Homo sapiens: one gene and its partners. The protein of the gene in region 3 interacts with the protein of the main gene of each other region in a pairwise test. Each region holds a gene or a part of one and is shown on either strand. Other genes may lie near its edges. The genes, in order: REL, GNG12, HDAC7 and ACOT11.

The links.
Region 1: the proteins of HDAC7 (region 3) and REL interact in binary tests that used the Homo sapiens proteins (3 or more experiments, as listed by UniProt).
Region 2: the proteins of HDAC7 (region 3) and GNG12 interact in binary tests that used the Homo sapiens proteins (3 or more experiments, as listed by UniProt).
Region 4: the proteins of HDAC7 (region 3) and ACOT11 interact in binary tests that used the Homo sapiens proteins (3 or more experiments, as listed by UniProt).

The regions. Positions count from the first base shown.
Region 1 is NC_000002.12:60,919,574-60,926,573, reverse strand, and holds part of REL (proto-oncogene c-Rel), read right to left. Parts: intron 6,534-7,000; coding exon 6,465-6,533; intron 6,192-6,464; coding exon of another isoform or gene 6,096-6,191; intron 6,001-6,095; coding exon 5,932-6,000; intron 4,812-5,931; coding exon 4,039-4,811; 3' UTR 1-4,038. UniProt on the Homo sapiens protein: Proto-oncogene that may play a role in differentiation and lymphopoiesis.
Region 2 is NC_000001.11:67,700,940-67,704,503, forward strand, and holds the end of GNG12 (guanine nucleotide-binding protein G(I)/G(S)/G(O) subunit gamma-12), read right to left. Parts: 3' UTR 536-3,564; downstream 1-535. UniProt on the Homo sapiens protein: Guanine nucleotide-binding proteins (G proteins) are involved as a modulator or transducer in various transmembrane signaling systems.
Region 3 is NC_000012.12:47,788,904-47,795,974, forward strand, and holds part of HDAC7 (histone deacetylase 7), read right to left. Parts: coding exon 7,003-7,071; intron 6,865-7,002; coding exon 6,684-6,864; intron 6,478-6,683; coding exon 6,281-6,477; intron 6,031-6,280; coding exon 5,857-6,030; intron 4,686-5,856; coding exon 4,466-4,685; intron 3,767-4,465; coding exon of another isoform or gene 3,756-3,766; exon of another isoform or gene 3,102-3,755; coding exon 2,968-3,101; intron 2,804-2,967; coding exon 2,683-2,803; intron 2,406-2,682; coding exon 2,356-2,405; intron 1,018-2,355; coding exon 910-1,017; intron 676-909; coding exon 620-675; intron 446-619; coding exon 358-445; intron 1-357. UniProt on the Homo sapiens protein: Responsible for the deacetylation of lysine residues on the N-terminal part of the core histones (H2A, H2B, H3 and H4).
Region 4 is NC_000001.11:54,600,228-54,607,227, reverse strand, and holds part of ACOT11 (acyl-coenzyme A thioesterase 11), read right to left. Parts: intron 5,960-7,000; coding exon 5,815-5,959; intron 4,560-5,814; coding exon 4,504-4,559; intron 3,358-4,503; coding exon 3,291-3,357; intron 2,883-3,290; coding exon 2,799-2,882; intron 2,153-2,798; coding exon 2,019-2,152; intron 95-2,018; coding exon 1-94. UniProt on the Homo sapiens protein: Has an acyl-CoA thioesterase activity with a preference for the long chain fatty acyl-CoA thioesters hexadecanoyl-CoA/palmitoyl-CoA and tetradecanoyl-CoA/myristoyl-CoA which are the main substrates in the mitochondrial beta-oxidation pathway.

The DNA of each region.
Region 1 (7,000 bases), on a different chromosome or scaffold from region 3:
CCAACTGAGGGGAGGGGTCAAGACTCATGGGAAATAAATCTCAGGGAGGAATCTTGACTACCACAGAAAACCCAGAGGAGTATGCAAAGAGGGAAGTATAGGAGGTTATACATAGGTCAAGCAGTGTGAGGACTGAAAAAAAGACACTAGATTTGACAAGGCGGGCAGTCTCCGCTCATCTTTCCCAGAATATCCTAAGAAAATTGTAGGAGCTAAAGACAGAGATGGCTGGGCTAAGGAATAACTGGGAAGGGAGAAAATGGAGGCTGGAGGCATTTCAGAAGTCAGGATGCAAATGCATCCAAGTGGTAGGAAAGGTTTTATTTGGTCTTTCCTTTTAGGCTAATGAAGACATTTACCATGTTTATACAAAGAAAGGAATCACTAAGTGGTGATGTAAGGATAAAGTAAACACAGCCTGGCAGAGAAAGGAGGAGGGATCCAGTGCACAAGTAGAGTTCAGAAAAAGTGCCTCAGATACTAAAAGCAGGTGTTAAAAGAGCAGGTGAAAGCATGAATATATGTAGAGACAGAGGAGAAACGTTACCAAATTCATTTTAAATTAAAGTCTATACAGGGTCAAAAAATAGCACCTGAAAAATGAAAAATCCATTGGGAATATTCTACACACAGAGGTAGCAGAACCTTAATTCTGCTTACACCGCAAAACTAGCCAACACTTATTTAGTTTTAAAAAAATATTCTAAACACAGATGTAGCAGAACCTTAATTCGGCTTATACTTACTTATACTAAGTAGCCAACGCTTAATTAGTTTAAAGAAAAAAACCCATGCAGCTATTCTAACAGTCAGTGTTTAAACTGATTGGTGCTAATTAATCCAAAACTATGAGATTCTGTATTAAAAAAAAAAAAAATCTCCCCACCTATCATCCATCATCATCTAGAGACATCCTGGGTTCACATTTTGAACAGAAAAGAAATTGTGCCTTCAGGTTTTTCTTTCTCCCTGGTAAGTTCTATTTATGTGCTTATGATTTTAAAAATTTATTTTAATTTATATTTTTAAGTAAAAAAATTACTTTCTACCTTTTTTATTGAATTCTATGATTCTTGTGAGATTTCATAATGGCTGCTCATGAAAAATTTATAATACAGAAATATTTCCTTTTGAAATAATAATTTCTGAGGAATATTAATGGTACTCAGGGGTCTTTCTTTTTTTTTCTTCCTGAACCATCCTGAGCCCAAGTCTCACTTTGCTGTCTTCCCTATTTCCCAGTATCATTTAACTGAGAATTTTTGTTTTTATGGCATTCACACATTTTTCTATTTGACCGAAACGACTAGTTTATGTAAAGTTATGGTTTGGTTAGACATCGTGTAAGTAAAATGACAGACTGTTTCTTGCTAGGAAGATATTCAACATTTAGGGCAGGTTCTAGTTGTAAAACAAACTAGGTAAAGTTAATTACTTAGCATAATGATAATTCCATCATAATTAAGATTACTGCCCAACTTTAATCTGTAATAATAAAATATAATGATCTAATTAACCCTTACAATGTCTTTGGGAAATAAAAGGGCAAAATAAATAATTATATATCAAATGAAAACTCCAAAATATAACTACGTTTTGAAGCAAAGTGAAAGGTTTCTAAATGCCAGAATTACCAAAAGTCACGAAACACAAACAGCAAATAAAGTGTAATGTTACAGCTATAACAACTCACATAAAGTATGCAGAAACAACTAGGAAACACTGAGAATTTTAAATCTGATTAAGGAGCTAGTAGAGATTACCCAGCATTCAGCTCACCATTTGAAACCAGCCAAATGAATATGTGACAAGTCTCTTTTAAAAATCTTGCACTTTGAAAAGGAAATGTGTTATAAGTGTTACTCAATCTGGAAGTTGCAATGAGCTTGACAATGTCAAAACATGGATTTAGAGATTCTCAATGAACCTCTAATGTTTTACCTTCAATAAAATCTCTTTTCATAAAAGGAAAAAAAAGATTACCCAAATTCTACCATCATTTTGCCACTGGGATTATTTTCCTTTCAAACAATTTGGATGACCATTATTATTCCTGGACTTGAATGTACACGATTCTCATAAACCCAATGTCACACTAAGTAAAACTGCAAAAATCATATACGTCTTATAATTAAAGTTATTATTTCTTTCAAAAACCAAAGTTCTATTAGTAATACTTTTAATGTTCAATAAACATTTACTGAGTGTTTAATATAAGGTAGGCATTTTTCTACAAATTGGAGATTCAACAATAAAGCACAAAAATTTCTGTCCTTAGAAAGTTTATATTTCGGTATGGGAAAACAAACAGTAAATGAATAAATACTTAGTAAAGTCAGATCGTGGTGAGTGCTATGGACATACATAAAGCAGGGGGGAAAGGGAATGCTGATGTATATATTCAAGGACGACCTGCTCAGGTAACAGTGGAGTGACACCTGAAGGATGTAAGAGTGAACTATGCATTTTTCTGGGAGAACAACATTCAAGGCAGAGGGAATACCAAGTACAGACTGTCCAAGGCAAGTGCATACTTGATGCTTTGAGGAGCACTGAGGCCAAGGTGCCTGGAGCTGCATGAGGAGGTGGGATATGGTGGTACCTGAGGTAGGACAGGGAGTCTAGGCCTGCAACTTTTAAGGACTTTGACTGCTCTGAGTGAGATGAGAAGCCAATGAATGGTTTTGAGCAGATGAATGGTATGAGTTGACTTGTTTTAAAAATAATCATTCTGGCTACTTTATGGGGAACAGACTGTAGGAATGCAAGGATATAAGAAGAATTTTTGTAGATGACAGCTTCAATCCAGGGAAGAGATGATGGTGGCTTGGAATAGGGCGTTAATAGTAGAGGTCAAAAGAGGTGGTCAGCTTTAGATATATTGTGAAGGTAGGGTCTACCAGATTTGCTAATGGATTGGATATGGGTGCTAAAAGAAGAATCAAGGATGACTTCAGGGTTTTTGGCCTGAGCAACCAGAAGTATGGCATTGCCATTTACTGAGTTGGAGAAGACTGAAGGAGAAGCAAGTTTGGGAGGGAAGACCAAGAATTCAGTTTTGGATATGCTGAGTGTGAGCTTTAATTAGATTTCTAGATAGAGATGTCAAATAGGCAGTTTTATGAGATCACAGGGAGTGAGGACATCTAAGAAAGGCGAATGGTCCAAGGAAACTTCTTCCCCTTAAAAAATGAGTGTACAGCTAAAATCATAAGCAACTTTAAAGGCATAGATTGAAATAGTATAAAATGTAGAAAACCTCCCATACCTTGAAAGCTCACTTCAACTGCCTTCTGCCCAACTTAACATTTTAAAGACATTTTGATATACATACAAATCTAAGCTCCAAGAAGCCTAAGAAAACCCCTTAGGGGTTACCTTGGCCCATGGGCCTCAAAAATAAAAAATTAAGTTTTTCAATGGCATAGCCATTACAAGTTTTATCTTAAATTTGCTTGAAATTTAAGAATACATTAAAACATTATAAAAAGAAATATAAAAAAGTGTGTTTTTTTTGTTTTTTTTTTTTTGAGACAGAGTCTCACTCTGTCACCCAGGCTGGAGTGCGGTGGTGTGATCTCAGCTCACTGCAACCTCTGCTTCCTGGGTTCAAACAATTATTGTGCCTCAGCCTCCCAAGTAGCTGACAGTACAGGCACGTACCACCATGCTCAGCTAATTTTTGTATTTTTAGTAGAGACGGGGTTTCACCATGTTGGCCAGGCTGGTCTCGAATTCCTGGTCTCAAGTGATCCACCCGCCTTGGCCTCCCAAAGTGCTAGGATTACAGGTGTGAGCCCCTGCGCCTGGCCTCTGAGTTGTCTTTTTATGACAGCTTCCAATTTTGTATTCGCTATGTCCAAAGTTGTATGCTTCTTCCCTGAAAAAAGTTTTTTATATTCTCAAATACAGTATTATATTCTCAGTCAGTATTATATATACAGTATAAATATAGTATTATATCCCCAGTTAGACAAATACAAAATGCTGCATCTATATAGGTGGTATCAAGATTTAAAAGGATTTAAATCTTGCAAGTTATACTTGAAAAAATTCATATGGAAAGGAGTCACTCAATTGCTCATTTTGCATACTGCCAATACCTGAATACTGACTATCTTGAACAAAACCATGACTGTTTGGATTAGTACTGTTTGATGGTCCCGACTCATTTATCATGCTGTTATCTGCACAACTGAAGTCAGATCCCTCAAATGCATCTGATTGTGAAACAAAAACAGTAGTATTGGAATTGGCGCCTGCTGACATACTGGAAGAGGACATCTGATGGAGCTGTCTCAAGTCTCTTGGGTCTAACACTGAATTACATGAGGGGTTTTCAAGATTCATGCTCAGAAGTCTTGGATTATCAGTCTCTCCCATGCTGTCACTGCTGGTTGTCATCATATTCACAGAACAATTAGACAGCATGTTGGGATCAGAAATACCATATAAATCTGCTGATGGCATGGATGACGCTTCCATTCCGACTATGTCATCGGCATTGTTGTAAATGCAAGCATTAGAAGCATTTAAATCATTCCCAACAGGTATTCTCAGGAATGGTGGGATACCTTGCGAATTAGAAGGAAGTGTCCTTGTTGAAAAACTACTCAGTGGGTTTGTATTGCCTGAGCGTGGGGTGGGGTGGGCCACTGATGACCAGCTTGAAGAAGGCAGAGGTGCCATTGAGGCATGATGTGACAATCCACTTGAGATGGGCCCAGGTGAGGGATAGTAGGATTCTGCTTGACTTGAAACCCCTGTAGGCATTTCTCTCACAACTGCATCATGAGAAAACAAGTTTGGTTCTGTGGGAGGAAAAATTTATTTTACGAAATTAAAATGAACAAAATTATAAAAAGCATTTCTAAATTAAAATTGCATAAGCACACAAATATATATAAAGAAAAATGTCAAGGAAACCAATGTAACATTTCAAATAAAAAAATGTAAAAAGCACTAAAATTATTACACGAATCCAAAATGAAATTCTGTAACGTATATACCATTTTACAAATACAGGTAAAATGATTTTGGCAAGTTACTTTGGCATATGTAATTTCACTTCAATTAAATATGAAAATCTAGTTTCTGAGGCTCTATAAAGGTATTTTTGAAAACTAAAAGATAAATATTAGAATTACAATTAATGGGATTCCAAATAGCCAAAATCATCTCTTACTCTTCACTTTTAGGAGAAAATGGAAGGATGGAGACAACACTCATTAGGGATAAGAAAATACACATAACTTTTAAGATATATTACAACAGAACCCTAAGAGACTATAAAATTCACAGTCAGAAAAAAATTACAGAAAAAATTAATTCTGTATCTATTTACATATTATACAAATGCTTTACAAACTAAACCAGGAAAAAGCAATGATTTAAGAATGTACGTGGGGGAAAAAAGACTTCTTCTAATTAGCCCTCGGTTGAATTACCTAAACTAGGGATTGGCAATTTTTTTTTCTGTAAAAAGTCAGATTGTAAATATTTTAGGCTTTGTGAGCTATATACAGCCTCTGTTGGAACTATTCAACCCTGTTGCCATAGTGTTAAAAAAAAAAAGCAGTTTAGAGATAATATTTAATCAAATATTCATGGCCGTGTTCCAGTAAAATGTTATTTATAAAAACAGGTAACTAACCAAATCAGTAACATTTTTTCATAACGCAATGTAATTAATAAAATTGCTACCATATGAACAACATGTAATTTCTTGAACAATAAATCCCAAAAACATAATCAGTTTCTAACACAACCTTCAGAAGCCATGCTTAATTCATTCTATACTGAAAGCATGAAAAATCTGGAGAGAAAATTTTCAAAGAAGCAGTTATTCATTCCTAAAAATAGAATTCCAATATATTGTGCAAAGTACTGGTCTTTCTGATCACAAGAAATATGCTATAGGAAATAAAATACCTTTTTTGAAGTATCTTCCTTCTCCAATTGAACCGAGGAGACCAGGTCTTGGTCTCTCAGGAAAATTAACTGTTAGGATAAAGTTTTTCCATTATTAAATGTCATTTGAAAAATAACATTATCAGTTAAAATCTGAAAAACTGGCCGGGCGTGGTGGCTCCCACCTGTAATCCCAGCACTTTGGGAGGCCAAGGTGGGTGGATCACCTGATGTCAGGAGTTCAAGACCATCCTGGTCAACATGGCGAAACCCTGTTTCTACTAAAAATACAAAAATTAGCCGGGTGTGGTGGCACATGCCTGTAATCTCAGCTACCCGGGAGGCTGAGGCAGGAGAATTGTTGAACCTGGGGGGCAGAGGTTGCAGTGAGTTGAGATTGCCCTACTGCACTCCAGCCTGGGTGACAGAGAGAGATGCTATCTCAAAAAACAAACAAACAACAAAACAAAACAAAAATAATAAAATTTGAAAAACTGAATAAAGTAAATAAAACAAAACCTATTTAAATATGAATCGATCCAAACTATTCTTACCGTGATCCTGGCACAGTTTCTGGAAAAGCAGAGTTGTCTTTTGTTTCTTTGCTTTATTGCCGTAAGTATCTGATTAGAAAGAAACCAGGAAAGCAGATAAAAAATTATAGGATTGTATCCTCTCCTTTAATAAACAAATATTTTATTCACATATAGAAAATGTTTTCAATAAATATGTATGTAAGTTGGATTTAATAAGTATTATAGAATATGTCCCAAATCAGTAGTATCAGTAGAAAAGGATATTTTTCTCTTAGTAAAAAATTGTTTAAAGTAATCTCAGCACTTTGGGAGGCTGAGGCAGGTGGATCACTTGAGCGCAGGAGTTTGAGGCCAACCTAAGCAACATGACAAAACCCTGTCTCCATAAAAAAACAGAAAAATTGGCCAGGCGCAGTGGCTCATACCTGCAATCCCAGCACTTTGGGAGGCTGAGGTGGGTGAATCACCTGAGGTCAGGAGTTTGAGACCAGCCTGGCCAACATGGTGAAACCCCATCTCTACTAAAAATACAAAATGAGTCGGGTGTGGTGGCG
Region 2 (3,564 bases), on a different chromosome or scaffold from region 3:
TATCAGTTTCCACTACCTCAGCTAGTCTCAGGATGGGAAACAGCCCTCCACAGGTCAGAGTCATTACGTCACTCCTCAGCAGCCTCTCTAGCTCCCCTGTTGGTTTCAGGATAGGCAAGCAGGATAGGAGGGCGGGATCGGGGGTCTTCTGCACACTGGCTTCCAGTCCTCTTTTCTCCTCCTCTCATCTCCTCCCAGGACCTCATTCCAACGCATACTGTTCTTCTCTCACTCAGCCCAAACATCACCACCCTTGGAAGCCTTTTTAGAGGTCTTTGTTGATGTGGAGCTAGTCCCTCTTTCCTCTGGGCTCTCACAGCACTCTGTGTTCACCTGAGTTATAGCACTTGCCACATGATACTACGATGATTAGTTTACATATCTGTCATTCCCATCCTCCTTGCTCAGACTGTGACATGGGCTGGTGTAAGTCTTATTCATTTGGGTGTCATGGGAGCCTGACTCTCAGCAGCTTGCTCTCAGGAGGTGCTCAGAAAATGTTAACTGAGTGAAGGAAGGGAAAGGGGAAGAGAAATGGTCTTTTATTCATTTATTGAGCAAAACACAAGTAGGATGATACAATGAGGCACTGACGCAGTACAGAAAGCAATGGTGCTTTTAATGAAACTTCTTTCAAATCTGTGAACATGCTAGCTGTGAAGTACATGCTTTTATTCTTTCCATAGGACATATTTCCAAATAATGATCACAGTATTATGGTTAATAAGATGCTGGACAGATGCGTAGCCAAAGAATATTACATAACAACAAAATCTCATCAATGATATATCAAATGCAAATTTACTAAGACATCAAGAGAATATCTGTTTGTAGTTACATGGCTAAAAACAAGACATTATTACAGTAACCAAGTCCATAAAACTAGAAAAAAAGCACTGTATAACAAAAAGGCCTTTTAGAAGCTATTAAATGAACAAACATTATAGATAAACCAATTTTATATCTGAAGCAGCTTATAGCACCAACACGTTGGCAGGACCAGCAGAGGGGTGGGGTCTTTGGACCAAGGCATCTGGGAACAGGAAGGGCTCTCAGCCATCATCTACTGCAGCCACTTGTTTTACAAATGGAGAAATAGAGGCCCAGAGAGATGAAGCGCCTTGTCCAAGGTCACACAGCACAGGACAGACTGGGAAATGATCCAGGGCTATGATCCAGGCCACTGACTTCAGGTAAGTGCTCTATTTTAACATACAGATATAAGATTCTATTTGATTTGATGTATTTTTTCCCCATTAACAGGTCTACCATAAAAGAAAGCAATAAAACCCATAATGTACTCTGGTATTGTATTTATTTCACTGAGAAATGACTGGCATGTACTACGATCATTTTGGGGGCCTATATAGATCTTACATCAAAATTCAGAGGAATTAGTCAGATAACACTATTTTAGTTATAAATTGAGAAGGTGGCATTTGAAGAGAATATTTGGCACATCCTCCACTACGTAAGCTACCCTATGCCTCAAAATTACTAAATCATTGGTATAAAGTTTTGGTTTTTTTCCTGATAGTTTAAAGATTAGTAAAGTACAAAAACAGTCTAAATAGAGAAAAAGCAAGTCAGGTCTTTCCTTTAAAAGTTAAGTATGGCACTTTTCATTTTAATAAGGTAAATGATTTTAAAAACCTGACATTTTTTAGAAGAAAAAAAAAAACTAGCTATGAGCCATCACTTGTGAACCATCTGGTATATAAAATATTTCCCTTATTTAAAAAATGTTTCTGTAAAATACTTCGGAGTCATGAAATCATGCCGTGGTCCTGAGGCCTCAACTGGACAGATTTATGATGAACTAATGAAGATATAAGAATGAAAAAAAGAAAGAGATCACTGTTAACAGAAGCAGCATTAAGGACAAAGTATACTGAATATATTGAAACAGCTTCATGGAAATGAAGCCAAGAAGTTGCATGTATATACGTGAGAAAGATTATCATTACAGTGGTAGTTGGAAAAAGTAACAAACACTGGGTATTTGTCTATCATTAACATAAACCAACTGTTGCAGACAGTTAAACTGTGGCTTTGTAAGGAGAATAAAGCCTGATAAAAAAAGTGACTTCTGCATATCATATATATGTATACATATATTTTCTCACATAGACGTCTAGTTATAAGTAAATCAACATTTAGCTACAACTTTTCCTCTCTTGGGTCCAGCATCAAAAGATTTGATATTCATGAACATGCCCTACACCTGGTTAGGAAGTTATGTATTTATACTCATAGCCTTTATTGTATCTGACCAGGGTGAATAAAATGAAATCTCCTGGGACCTCAAGTCCATTTCTTACCACTATAAGCATATTAACAGATATATATCAAAACATACTTGTTTACTGTTAGGTAAAAGAGCATGTTTCAGTACTAAATAATAAACTATGCCTGCTACCAATAACATGCACATAATGGTATAATAAAAGTAATTTTTCATGAAAATATTTTGAAAGAAGCTACATTATAAATATTTAAAGAAACGTTAAAAATCAGAGTGAAAATCAGATTAGTGTTCTGAAACTGAGTAGAAAAATAGACTTATAAAAAAAAGAATGTCTCATTAAGTGAAGCATTAAATGTAAAGTTGTCTTTTTAGTGTAAATTTCAAATCTCACCCTTTGAGAGGTAAAATCTTCCTCTCTCCTAAACAGGTACCTATAATTGATTTGGGAACTGGGCATATCGCAGAACGAAAAAGCAGATGACACAAGGCTAAGGGCAGTGCCGTGATTTTCACATGGCCTTAGAAAAGCGAGGGGCATTCATAAGGCTGAGTAGATAGCAACTTGGAGAAATACTGAATAAATGTGAGCAGTTTGAAAACAGTAATGCATTTGTCCACCCTAAATGAGCTAATACTCAAAGCCCAGACATTAGATTTTAAAAGGGGTTTGCTTTCCAGGACAGATTGTACAAAATTTGGGAAAATCGTTGTAAATAATTACTTCCTGGGGTTGATTCCTTTTTGAGGGGAAGTTTTTAACCTTTCCTTAGTAGTTACTTTTAATGAACTGAAGAAGAATTAAAGCATCAAAGGCCTAGTGTATGATTTGACTCCGAAGTGACCCTCTCTTCTACTTTGATAAAGTCAAGATACCTTATTGGCCATAGGAGATTCCTCCTTTTGGGGCTACCCCCATACCTGGAAATTCCAAGAGTGTGAGGGCTATATTTGGGCCCAGAGGAAAATCAAGGAACCCCATATCCAGCTGCTAAAGCCCTTGGGCCCAAGGAGTGTACCACTGAATCCAAGGCTCTCTTGGGTAGCCTATGTGCCTCTTGGATGGTATGTGAACAAGGTAGGGATGAAACTGCAGATGTCTGAAAAGAGCTTAAGCATCCTGACAGCTTGCATTTTTTTTTTAATTTTTTTTTTCCTCACCGTATTCCACATACCTGTGGCTGGGGAAGGTAATGTTACCTCTGCAAACAGATGCTCTGGTAAGAGAAGAAAGACACAGGGAAGGCAGAGAGAGCAAGACAGAGGGCTCAATCACAAAGCTGGGACAAGGAGAGCAGCTGTTTTTCACACATTCCTGC
Region 3 (7,071 bases):
GATTAGTGGTGTACTGATGTTATCTGCTATTATTCTTATCATCACTACCTGTACAGGAAATGCAGAAATTACTAGATCTGCCAAAAGAAGCCAATAGAGGTCAAAAGACAACACTCAAATGACAGCTCCTACTCGTTGCAGGGGTTTGCGATGGCTGAATGCGTTCCCACACGCCATCCCCTCTAGGCCTCCCAACTGTGATGTGGGTGTTATCTTCACCCAAATTTTACACAAGGGGAAACTGAGGCTCAGAGAGGCTACTGCAGAACTAAGACATGAAGCCGCATCTCTAACATCAGGCTCAGGGCTTTTCCCCCAGGGCTCTCGAATTGGAGGGTGCTACGGACAGGCACCTACCCAGTCTACAATGAGGATCTTGCTGGCCTTGCTCTGCTGTTGCAGCTGCCGGCAGGCGATGGCCACTGAGTTGAAGAAGCAGAAGCCCCTGGAAGGAGAGACAGGTCCTGCCAGCCCATTCTCTCCACATGCCCTCACCTCCCCAGGCCCCTGGGTTGGCCCAGCCTGAGAAAGCTCAGGGAAGAAGAGAGAATGTCCCTGAAGGAAGTTCCTGGGGGCTTGCCCCCCACCTCATCCCACCCAGGTCTTCCCTTAGCCTTACATGGCTGTTGAATGATCTGCATGGTGTCCTGGGGGCCGCACCACAGCGAAACCATTCTGGAAAAAGAAAGAATGCTTGTCAATCAACAGACAGCTCTGACCCACAGCTGCATGAACGTACCCCAAGAGTTCCAATCTCAACCTGGTTCCCAGAGCCCTCAATTTCCCCTCCAAAACCCTGTAGCAATCTCTAAGAGGAATGCGATGCCTGGGGTTCTGGGCCTGGATTCCCCACTACCCCACTCTGCTTCCTCCTTTGTGGTGTGTCCACCTTCAACCCAAACCTCCTACCTTTAGCTCACGAGAAGCCACTTTGAAGGCGAGGTCAGTGACACTGCCAGCGGCCCAGCGGGCTGCATTGGAGGAATGAAGCTCATTCCAGATGGTGTCAGTGTCCACCTGCGGGAGCCAGAGTCAGGGCCCGCATCATCCAAGGCTTCACACAGGAGCCAGGGCCCAAGGGGGTGGTCCCCACCCCACGGCCAGGACCCCAGGGGCAGGGAGCTGGGCAGACAGTGCTGCCTCCCCAGTGCCCCACCGCCCAAAGGCAAGGCCTCCTGTGTCCCCCAATCCCAGCATGACTTTTTCCCAGCTTAAGTCCCAGCACCAGCCCATTATCTGGCCAGCACTCTGCTGGCAGCATCACGCCTGCCTCCCCGGTCAGGGGAGGGGGCATGGCGTTACCTGGGCGGGACTTGGGGTTTGGGCCGGGAGGGGGTTTTAAGCCCCAGCTGACTCTGCTCAGGCCCTGCGGGACGGTCGGAGCTGGAGGGGCCGTCTGCACCACTGTCTTCCACTCAGGGCCCCTAGCCCAGGCTGGGAGGCCCCCCAAACCCAGTCCCTGGGCCTCAAGGCTAGGGAGGGGCCGGGGGGCATGATGGGGAGATGGGGAGGGCGAGGCAGACCAAGAGAGGCGAGGAAGGCAGAGAGAGTCGCAAGAGGCTGGAGAAAGAGAGAGAGAGAGAAAGACAGAGAGGGAGAGGAGGGAGGAGAAAACAGAAGCAACAACAGTTGGAAAAACCAGAAAGTGGCAAGAAATGGGAAGTTGTGAATAGGGCACTGACTGGCTCCCAAAGTCCCCCACCAGCTACAGCTCCCACTTTCCCTCCGGAATGAGGCCTCCATCCCCTGCCTCTACACACCTTGCTTGAGAAACTACTGCAGGGATAGTGTTAGGCGAGGAGAGCTGAGCCGGAGGGAGCGGGAAGCTCCCTTCACAAAGGGGTGAGGACTTAGGAAGCAAAGCTCGCGAGCGGAGTTTGGGGCTATGTCCCGGAGTGGGGAGTGCTGGGATCGCCAAGGACACCGGAAGCACCACCGTGATGTCACACCAGGCAGCCCAAGGTCTGGGGACCAGGCTGAGGTACCCCAACTTGCCACTTAAGAGCAGACAGAGCAGCCTGGCGGCCAATGCCCAGTCATGGGGGTCTTTGAAGGGAGAGATGATCCTAAGCCCCAGCCTTGGCCCTGCTCCTGAAACCTCACTCAACATCTACCAGACACCTTCTAGGGGAAGGCTTAGGCTGGACTCCGCATTCGGGGGAGACTGTGGGTCCGAGACACGCCTGTCCAAAAGGAGCTTCCTGCTGCAGGGGGCACCTCAGGAAGTCCCTGGCTCACCCTGTCTGGCAGAACCACAACAAGCAGAGGTTCTGCAGGGGCTGGGCCTGGGAGAACCACAGGGAGGAGAGCTGAGAGCCCTGGCAACGCCCCCCTGAGACCCCTGGGCACACTTACCCCAACCCCACCACAGGGCAGCATCACAAACATCCGCTGTGCCAGGAGCCCTGCGGGGAGAGGCCCAGCCCACGTCAGCGTGAATACTCTCAGCCTTTGGCCCAACAGGGAGCAGGGAGCCCAGAGAGCAGGGCCGGGTGAGTATTGGGGGAGAGAAATATGGAAGGGAGAGGTGGAGGTGGGCTGAGGAGGGGCTTGGCAGCAAGCTGGAGTAGGGACGTCCAGGGTGCAGGAGGAGGCTGGCTGGGCGGGCAGAGCCGAGACAGGAGTGCATGGGAGCTGGGTGAGGTAAGCTGGCATGGGGAGACAGGGCCACTAGGCCATTACCTGCCAGCTTCCCGTTGTCCAGTTTGAGGCGGCTGAGCGGGTTGGTGCCGTAGAGGAGCACGTGCCGCTCAGAGTGGACCGACTGCAGCTCTTCCAGGGAGGCCTTCCGGCCTCGGAGACACTGAAAAGGGGACCACAGAGCTCTGAGCTCATGCTCGCCCCTTCCCTCCCATCACCACCACCCCATGTGCCCCTCATCTCTCATGGGCCCCAGGGCCCCCCACCCCTCCCCTCCCATGACTCCTCCCTCCACCCATTCCTCGGGCCCCACCCGCGCCTCCTCACCTCACACTGGCTCCGGAGCCCCCGCTCCTGCAGCCGGGACCAGATGCTCTGGATGCGGCCGGCGTGCTCCGGGTGCCTGCTGTTGTCACCGCAGGAGCACTGGTGCTTCAGCATGACCGAGTCATAGATCAGCCCTGCAGGAGCAAGGGTCAGAGCGGGGACCCAGGGAGTCCTCACGCCCCATGGCCTTGGCTGCAGAGAACACGCCAGCACCGCCACAGCAGGCACCCACATGGAGCCGGGCGGGTACACACCCCTCACACCCACACAGGCCTGCATTTCATCCTGCCCCTACCCCAGCCCCAGCCCCTCACACCTGTCCACACACGCCCAGACACTTCCCCAGGTGGCAGCAGCCAACACATCAACACAGCTCCAGCCAACATGGCTGCCACAGAGCCACGGCCTTCCCACATGCGGACACGACTGCTGGGTGGCCCAGGACTCGAGGGCCCAGCACCAGGCCCTCAAGTGCTCAGAGCAAAGCATGAGGCCTAACGTACAGCATCTCACACACGTGTCATGAACCCAGAGAGGCTACCAAGGGGCAGCAGGAGGGAAAAGAATTCCTAGGAAACCCCCAAACCGGGAGCTAAGAAGCCCACGATGACACTGGACCATGTGATAGACAAATCCAGCTTTGGAGAAGTGACTATTTCAGTCTGACCCGTGGGAAGTCTTCAGAGGAGGGTCCTGCTCATTGCGGGTGGGAGGGTCAATTTCTGTGCGTCTAGGACACCAACGACTCTCAAAATGCTCACACCATGTGACCCAGGAATGCTACTTCTTTAGAGTGAACCTTGGGAAATAATCCCAAGCATGAGGAAAGATTTATGCATAAGGAAATTCAAATAAGCTATAATCTAAATGTCTAACTGATAAGGGATCCCTCAGTAAAAATGAAATACATTAATGAAATACTATGAGACTCTCAGTTTTAAAGACTAATTATGCCAAGAAGGATTCATAATATGTTAACTAAGTAAAGCAGGATACAAAACGTAGTTCATGTGTTCATGGCATCTGTACATGTACATATGGCCAGAACAAAGCCTGGACTGAAATACAGCAGAATTTCAGAGGGTTTACTTCTGGGTGGTGGGATACTGGTTGGTGATTTTTCTTTTCTTCTTAGGTTTTTCTGTACTCTTCAAAATGTCTAAAATACTTCTGAGCTCTTTTTACAAGCAGAGCAACAGTAATAAATATCATTTTTTAAAAGGGCTGAGTGCATTGGCAGGAGACTGGAATTCTTATCCTGGCTTGACTACCACTTGCTATTTGACCACAGGCTTGTCACCTTAGATTTCGTGAGCCTTGGTCCTCATCGGCCAAATGCAATAACCAGCTGTTCCATGTGCTCCATGGGTACTACGTGGGCCTAACAAGGCTAAGCACTCTGTGGCCTCTAAAAATGTCCCAAGTGACACCAAGACACCCACATGGACTCGTGCAGCCGAGCCCCTCCCTCCACCCGCCACCCTCCTCCCGGTCTCACCTGTGGTGAAGGGCAGGGTCCTGGCAGGGGTCTCTGAGCTGGAGAGGACTCGGGCCTGGCTGGCAGGCTCTGGGGCTGACAGTGAGGCAGGTGCGGCTGGGGAAGACTGAGCCCGGGACAGAGGCCGGTGCCCACCCTGGGCCAGAGGAAGCAGCACAGTGTCCCCGGTGCTGCCCCGGGGGAGCCGCCCAGCCAGTCGCTGCTGTTCCCAGAGCAACACCTAGGGGAAAGATGGGGCCTTGGTCTCCAGTGTTTCAGGGTCCTGCTCCCTCTACTTCTGCCTGAGGTCTTGGGAACTGCCAAGCAGGCCCCTTTCCTAGAGAGATTCCAGGATAAACCTAGACCTGCTGTCCAGTGGGGCTCTGGCCTTTGACTCTCTAAGCCCCCTGTCCCCTGCAGCCCCCTGACAGGTTTGCACCCCAGACTGACCACCCATTCCACCAGCTCCCCGGGCCCTTGGGGCTCCAAAGCCAGGAACCAGGGGAGGGGCGCTGGATCTTGTGCTGACCAGGATGTCCTCCTGTCCTGGACTATGTAACTGTTCAAGAACATGTGTGTGGCCTGTCATCATGTGTTATGGAGTAAATTATGTTCCCCACCCTCAAATTTATATGTTGAAGTCCCAACCCCCAGTACCTCTAAACATGACCTTATTCAGAGATAGGGTCTTTACAAACAGAAGTAATCAAATTAAAATGAGGTCGTTAGGGTGGGCCTTAACCCAGTATGACTATTGTCCTTATAGGAAGAGGAAATCTGAACAGGCATTCACAGAGGGAAACCACATGAAGCCACAGGAAGAAGATGACCATCCACAAGCCAAGGAGAGAGACCGGGAACAGCCCCTGCCCTCACACTCACAGCCCCCAGAAGGAACCAACTCCACCAACACCTCGATTTTGACTTCCAGCCTCCAGAACTGTGAGATGGTAAATGCCTGCTGTTTAAGGCGCCCAGCCTGTATCCCAACAGCTCCGGCAAGCTAATGCACTGGGTCTTGATTCCCACAGTGAGAGCATTCTGCTGGACACGCTGGAGCCTGGCTCCATCCCACCTCTGGCCCTAGCCACCTTTCTGGATAGAGGGGAGACATACCAGGGCAGGACTATGTGTGGCTCCAGGAAAGGACAGACTCCTTCCTGGAAAAGGGACATGCTTCACCTGAGACTGGCAAGCTGTTGTGTGTATGTGTGTGTATGGGTGTGTGAGTGTGCATGTGTGTGTGTGCCTACACCTTAGTGTGGATCCAGCACCCAGGATCTTATAGGGCAACCATGGGTCCTAGAGCTGCCTGTTGCACTGATGTCGTATCTCCCTCCCTTCCCCATCTTATGCCAGGCCCCAGAGTCTTCTGAGGACACTTTCTGAGGGGCAGGTGGGGACTGCCATACCTGAGGGTGCTGCTGGAGAGGAGCGGGGCCTCTGGCCTCAGGCTGCCCATGGCCCAGCTCCCTGTGCTCCAGGCCATCGTCCACCACCTGGCCCGGTCCCCCGCCATCTGTCTCCAGGTCTTCAGCCGAGGGTATCTGCCGCAGCCGGGGCTTCTCACTCGGCTTGGCTGACCTCTGGGGAGGGGAGAACCTGGCTGAGAAGCCATGGTGGAGCGAGGGGCATGGGGTGGGAGGTGGTGGGCTGGGCCAGGCAGCCAGTCATCTTGCTAGGACTCCAGCTGCCATGCAGCTCTGGGCCCCAAGAAGCCACATCCCCCTCTTTTGCCCTCCAGTTCCCTGCCCTTTCTAAGTACCCCTCTTCTTTTGGCCCCTAAGTCCCCAGTTAAACACTCCCTCAATACCTCCACTGCCCAATTCCTCTCACCTTGATCACCTGGACGTGAGTTTTGAGCTGCTCCAGGCGGGGCTGCATGGGGCCCGGCGGTGGGGGAGCGGTGGCACTGGGGGGCAGGGGCTCTGAGCGAGTCCGGCTCAGTGGCCAGTGGAGGCCTGACCCAGAGAGCCGCTCGGTGGTCATTAAGGACTGGGCAAAGTGGAAGGGCAAGGGCCCAAGCCCGGGCACTGGAAAGAATCGGGGGGTGGAATAAGGAGGGAACCACAGGGAGCAATGGAAGGAAGCGAGGGTATAGGGTGGGGGGCCAGGGTGCAGCAGGGCAATGCGCAGGACAGGGGGACAGAGATGGGGAGGAAGGATGGGTCCATCCCAAGCTTGGCTCTTAGCAGGGTGCAGGGACCCAGCCCCTTCCCTGAAGAAGCAGCAGACTCACCAGTCAGCAGCGGGGCATGAGAGCCTGAGGGGTCCAGGAGGAGAATGGGCTGCAGGCGAGAGGGCAAGGTGCCCCCAGCCTCGGGCTCCAAGCCATGGGGCAGGAAGAGGGGAGTGTGGGGGCTCCCCAGGATTGGCCCCCGAGGGCCCAGAGTCGGATGGGTCCTGCGGTCACTGTCAGCCTGGGGGAGAGGCGGGAGAAGTCACGGGGAAGAAGATTCCAGCAGAGAACAATGAAGATGATGGGGTGAGGCAGCAAGAAAAGGGAGTGAAAGAAGCTGGGGGGGCTTGGAGTGGGGGTGGGCACCCCAGCCACTCACCCTGGCAGGGGCGGGCAGCCCCAGAGTGATTGCGGGCAGCAAGGACACTGTCGGCAAGGCGAACGGGGC
Region 4 (7,000 bases), on a different chromosome or scaffold from region 3:
GAAGTCCTGGGGCTTTGTGTGACCTCCGAGGGCAGGGCTGGTGACGTGGTAGATGGCGTCGTCCTCGTCTACCTGCTGCACTAGCTCCACGCTCCTGTGGGGAGGCCGGGATCTCAGTGCCCCAGGAAGCTTCCAGCTCCCATGCAAGCAGCGGGTCTGCCCGGGCCCTGCCACACTGCAGTGCCTGAGCAGCTTCTGTGATGGGATGTCACCCCCTGTACTGCTCAGCAAGGGCCAGCAGGAAGGCAGCAAAGCCCAGCCAAGATGGACACACATGTGCGTGTGCACACACAGGCACATGTAGACATGCATGCAAGTAAATGAACACATACACACAGACATGGGAACAAAGATGTGCACATACATGCACACATGTGGTCATATGTGCACAGGCACATGGACAGACATCAGTGTACACAGAGACCCACGTGTGTCTATACATGTCTGCGCAGGTGCAGACACCACAAGGATGTGTGATGATTTAGCAGTTGTTCTTAATATTTACTGAGCGCCCACTGAGTGCCAGGTGCTGTTCTAAATGCTTTACATGTGTCACTTAATCTCCATAACAGCCCCATGCTGTAGACGCTTTTAGTATTCCTATCTCATAGATGAGGAAGATAACCTGCCCACGGCCACAGAGCTAATAAGGAAGCAGGGCTGGGGTGTGTCCAGGCTATCAGGTGGCAGAGATGTATCCCCAGGCCCAGGCACCTGACACATACATGCATGGGCATACACAGGTTCATACCAACACGTGCACCCACACAAGGACACCCACACAGAGGCAGGCATGGCCATGTCCAGACCCACCTCCTCCTCCCCACTCCCCTGCCTGCACTCAGCAGTAGGCAGGGTATGGGGAAGAAACTAGGGGCTCTCTTTCCCCTCAGGCCACTCCCCCACAAATCCCATCAAGTATCAAGATTTGGTCTGGCCTTCAAGGCCCACCCCAGCCTCCCTCCAAGAAGCCCACCTACCACATGCACAACCGCCCTCCCCCTACACGACATCCACCACCAAATCACCTCTCTGCCTTCTGGAAGGGGACAACCAGCAGGCCTGAGTCAGCTGGGCCAGGGCTTTTTAAGGCAACATGGCCCTTTTTGCAAAGACACCTTCAGCAGGAAGCCCATGTATAAAGAGCTACAAGCCTGCTCTGGAGAAAATAGATGGGGTGGGAAGGGGAAAGCCAGTTTGTCAAAATACAATTCACCAAGTGACCAGCGGACTGAATTTCCAAACACACAGAACCTCCTTACGGAAATTCTCCAGAATGTAGGCTCCTCATAACAAGCAATTATCAAAGAACCCCCTCGAGCCCCGGTGATGGCAGAACAGAAAATGACTTTAAGGGGACTTGAAAAACACAAATTTTGCTATTTTCCTAAGAACATATTTATCTTCCTTGACTAAATTCGAGAAGAAGATAGTCATGTGAACAATCAATAAATTTGGAGGAACAAATGTATGTAAAGGAATAACATATTTCTATTCATAATCATTCATTATATTCAAAAATAATATATTTGTGAGGAAAATCAGCAAACTTGGTAAGTTCAACAAACTGGCCATGCTATGTCCCGATCACCCTTCATCCTTCCAACTCCACCCCCAGCAGTTCCGGAAGCCCCTTTGGGAACACAGAACTCCACAGCACATGGTTTGAAAATCAGTATCTCTGAGTGTGAATCCATGACCCGCCATCCAAGCATCCATTTTAAGAAGAGAGAAACTGAGGCCAGAAAGGAAGTGACTTTGACTTATCCAATGTCACACAGCTGGTTGGGACAGAAGCAGGACTTCAACTCAAGCCTCCAGCTCTAATTCCGTGCTCAGTCTCTTCCCTAAGGGCTCAAAATACCCATGACCCTGAACCCCCACCCAGCATGGAACTCCAACCCACCCCCAGCCCCAGCAGGGCAGAGCATCATGGAGGATGACCCGCAGAAGGAGACACTCTCTCCCTCATCAGGCCGGAGAAGGGACACTGCCCTGCCCTCACCCTGGCCCCTCACCGGTAGTGCTTGTCCCACTCTGGCCTCTGACGCAGGTCCGAGAGCAGCAGGAAGGCCTGGGCTGCATCCACATGCACCACCATCTCCATGTGGAAGGAGAGGAACTTGTCATCCTCCAGAGTGTACAGGCGGACCTGCATGGGATAGAGGGCAGCCTCATTTGCTGGGTGGTGGAGTGGACTGATGGGGATGCTGGAGGCTGAGACTGGAAGCTCAGGGCTACAGCTGACTTGCTGTGTGAATGTGAACACGCAGCTCAACCTCTCTGAGTCTCAGCTGCATCCCCACGAATTATGAATTCAGCACAAATGGACAGGAAGGTGGCTTAAGACAACAGTGACTAAGGCAACATGTGGTGGTTCCTGTCAGCCAGGTGCCCATCCAAGCCCCAGTGGCACAGGCAGGAAGTGGCTTGTCTAGGGGAACAGGCAGCTGGCAGAGCTTAGGTCTCCTGTAAGCGCGTGCCTGCTGGCTGCCCCGATCCCTGCAGTGATCACTGCAGAAGAACAGAGAGGGAGGAAGTGCCTGGTCAGACAGCAGCAGACCTGAGTGGTTGAGAACAGGAAGGGGGGCAGGCAGGAGAGAAGAATCTAGGGGTTCTCGACTCCAGGCCCTGCAGGGGTGGGTACGTTTCCATAACTGGACTGGTTTCTTGATCTCACCCAATTCTTTGAAGAGATCTTTTTTTGACATAAGTGGTGTGGGAGAGTTCTTGTTGCTTGCCATTAGCCACCTCTGGCTCAGATGAGAAAGGAAAATTGGGTGGGTGGGGTCAGCTACCTGACTGATCTCCGAGGACAGCACCCAGTTGTCCTTGGCCACAAGCATCTTCAAGGAGGAGACGTTATTGTAGCTCAGGTACACCTGAAAGAGTACACAGGTGCTACCACTACCCCACCCCCTTCCTTCAGGGCCCCTGAGCCAAGGCCAAGGGTGTGCCAGAGAGGAACCTGGGCCAGGAATGGGTTGGGCGGTGGGTGGGTGGTGCGGCAGGTGCTGTGGAAAGAGTCCTGGGCGTTGAGAAGGGAGGTCCAGGCTTGGGCTTGGCTAGACCCACTGTGTGACCCTAGACAAGCTACTCTGCCTCTCAGGGTCTCCGCTTCCACCTACCAAACAGGGACGCAGGCCAGCTCTTTGCTAATGGTAGCAATCATGAGGCGTGTCATTCATATCCTGCTCTCCCCGGCCTTCCTCCAAACCCGTTCTGACAAGCAGGGAAGGGTGGGGGCCCGGTGGGTCTGAAGACTGTCCTCTCGGAGCAGAGAGCCTTACCTGGTTGCTAGGGTCCCAGGGGACGGAGAGGGGCACCTCTGTCTGCTTACAGGACACGATGTACTTCCTGGGAAGGAGAGAAGATGACAACCTTGGTCCCCTGGAAGTTCAGCACTTTCCACAGACTCTACTGCAGGCCTACTCTGTGCTAGGCCCTGTGCTGAGCCCGGCAGAATGGGAGACTCCTGTCTGGGTAGGGAGGCTGGATGGTCACACAGGACACAGCAGCTGAGGGCACACCAGCTCGGCCCCTACACCAGGGAAAGCTCAGAGGTGGGAGCGAGCCAGCAAGGAAGGGTATGGCGTCTAAGGCTCGATTCCCACACCCCATACCCCTGCTGAGTGACCTCACCCTGGTGCTGCTGTGTCCTCATCTGTGAAATGGGATCAGCAGTCACCCCTGCCTCATGGGGACATCACAATAACAGTGCTTGGCACACGGTAAATGCTCAGTAAATGCCATAGATGCACACTTTCTTACTAACAACAGCTTGTGATCCCTGCTGTGCTTACAGCCTCTAAAGTCCATAAATGCTTTCACAGCAGAGTCAGACACACCTGGCTTCATTTTTATTTATTTATTTATTTTGAGACAGAGTCTTGCTCTGTTGCCCAGGCTGGAGTGCAATGGCACAATCTCGGCTTGCTACAACCTGCAACTCCCGGTTCAAGCGATTCTCTTGCCTCAGCCTCAGCCTCCTGACTATAGGTGCACTGGGACTACAGGCGAGAGCCACCACGCCCAGCTAATTTTTGTATTTTTAGTAGAGACGGGGTTTTGCCATGTTGGCCAGGCTAGTCTCAAACTCCTGAACTCAGGGGATCTGCCTGCCTCGGCCTCCCAAAGTGGCTTTACCTCTTGAACAACTGCATCTCCTCTCTGAACGTTTCTTCATCTGCCAAATGGGCATCAGAATCAATGGCAAGAACACAGGATTTAAAATCGGCTGGACTCAGCCAGCTTCAAATTCTGACTCTGCTGATGATATTTGTGTGTCCCTGGGCAAGCCACCTAACCCCTCTGTCCCCAGCGTCCTCGTGTGTACAACAGGCCAGAAGACCGCTGTGTAATAAGACCAAAACGAGAGGATGTAAAGGGCCCGGCCCAGGGCCCAACGCACAGGCAGCTCTGAAGAAAAGCGAGTGCCCTGGGGTCAGCGGAGCGTGAACAGCCCCGAATCCACATTCTGCCCACCACTCAGCCCCTACTCACCTGTCCAGGCGGATCTTCTTTCTGGCACTGGCCTCTCGGTACCGCCGCTCACCATCCTGGGGAGGAAGTCGGGATAGGCAACCAGCTACCCCCACCCTCCGTCCTGCCCCCTCTCCATCCCCCAGGGCCCAAGGAGTTCCTGCAGCCCTAACGTGGAGTTCAGGTGTCGCTGGGGCAGCTGGAATCAAAACATCCTGGCCAGCAAAGTGGGAAACTAAGCTGTAGCCCCAGCTCCCCTCAAACTCTCTGAGTGACCTGGGAACACCACCTCCCCTGGCCAGACCTCAGTTTCCTCCTCTGTAAAATGGGGATCCTTACAGGCCACTCACAATGGTAATGAGAGTCCACATTTACTGAGCACTCACTACACACCAGCCACTCTTCTCAAGGGCTTTCCATGTGGAATTGCACCAAATCCTTACAACAACCCTCTGAGGCTGGGGCTGGTGCTGTATCCATTCTACAGAGGAGGAACCTGAGACAAGGAAGGGTGAGGGCTTGCCAAGGCCACAGGGGTAAGGGCCGAGGCCAGGATCAGCACCCCAATGGCCTGCCTCAAGCCCACCCTCTTTACCGCCACATCTAACGTCCTCCAGCCCCAAGTACAAGGAAAATGCCTGGGAAGCGGCTATGGCTGTGACCCCCAGCTCCCAGTCCCGAGGCTCCACCCAACTCCACAGCCCACGCTACCCTCTGGAAGGCCAGCAGGAAGGCCAGGGGACCTCCCCCAAGGGAGGGAGCGGCCTCTCCAAGGCCTGGCCCACAGGAGGCACAGGGAGCATTTTGTAAGAGAGGACCTTGCACCAGGCTCCTGACTGTCTTCCCGTGCCCCTTGCGTTGCTTTCACCATCCTCCTGACCGCTCCCAGGGCGCAGCCAGGCATGGAGTCAGTACTGCATCTATCGCCCCACAGTCCTGTGAGGTAGGGACTGCAGATACACCCATTTTACAAATGGAGACTGAAAGCTCGAGGGGGCATCACTTGAATGTAGTAGAGGCGAGGTTCCAACCCACATCTGACTCCAAAGCCAGTACTCTTCCAACCCTGCAGGCTCATGACAGCCCATTAACCCCCAACTCCGAGCCAGACCCACACATACTCCGAGTTCTGTCAGGCAGAACAAGCCCGCCCTGCACAAGGGGCATCCCAGGGCTCACAGCCAGGACACTCAGCTGGCTGTGCCCCAGCACGGGGGTAGGGTGGGCCCCTCACGCCTCTAGGTCTGTAGGGGGCTGGCAGTCTCCACCATGCCAGGGCAGAGAGGGAGGGGAGGGGAGCTGCTGGTGGGGCAGGGCGCTGGTCCCACTTACGCCGGGCTGGGGCCGAATCCAGGGCAGCAACTGGGGCTGGTCATCTGCGTCCAGGACCACAAAGGTCATAAAGGCACTGTTGATGTGGCGCCGGTGGGTCTCAGCCTCCTGGCGATAGGCCTCCACGCACACGCCCACCTCCATGCTGAGGGGAGGGAGTGTGGCTTCCAACCTGGACAGACCTTCCCAAGGGCCATGCCTCCTCCCCAACACACACACTCACACACACACATGCACACATGCGCCCACACACATGCATGCACACACACACACGTATGCACACACATACACACACATGTATGCACACACATACACACACATGTATGCACACACACACTCACATACACTCCTGCAGTTCTTCCAGCAACGTGGATCAGAGTCCCAGTGACAGGACACCTGGGACCGCTCCCTCCACCATTGTTTACAGAGCACCTCTTGTGTGTGTCCGGCCCTGTGAGGATGCGAGAGTGAATAAACCTGTCCAGTCTATGCCTCATGGGCTAACAGTCAGGGGAGGAGGCAACCAACAAGAAAGCAAAGGTATAAATATGCCATCAAAAACTGCAAAGGGATGTAAGGACATAAACCAGGAGGTGGAGGTGGACGGCCTAATTAGAAAATGTTCATTATGTGCATATTTACAAGTGCTGTGGCAGCCTTGCTTCAAACAGCTCAGTTGCTGCTATTCATGTATCTTACTGTCTTTATTTCTTTATTCCTTTATTTATTTTTTGAGACAGTCTCATTCTGTCGCCCAGGCTGGAGTACAGTGGTACAATCTTGGCTCACTGCAACCTCCGCCTCTTGGATTCAAGGGATTCTCGTGCCTCAGCCTCCTGAGTAGCTGGGATTACAGGTGTGTGCACCATGCCTGGCTCATTTTTTGTTTATTTAATAGAGACGGGGTTTCGCCATGTTGGCCAGGATAGTCTTGAACTCCGAGCCGTAAGTGATCTTCCTGCCTCGGCCTCCCAAAGTGCTGGGATTACAGGCGTGAGCCACTGCGCTCAGCCACTTACCATCCTTATTAATTATAAAATAGCAGCCACCACCATTCCCCCTCACTTTGGAAGTTCTATGATTGCAGAGTGTGGACATTATATAGATGGGGAAACCAAGGCCTAGAACTGGGCAATGATTTTTCCAAGGATTCCAGATTCCTGGAATCTGGACTAAAATCCAGGCT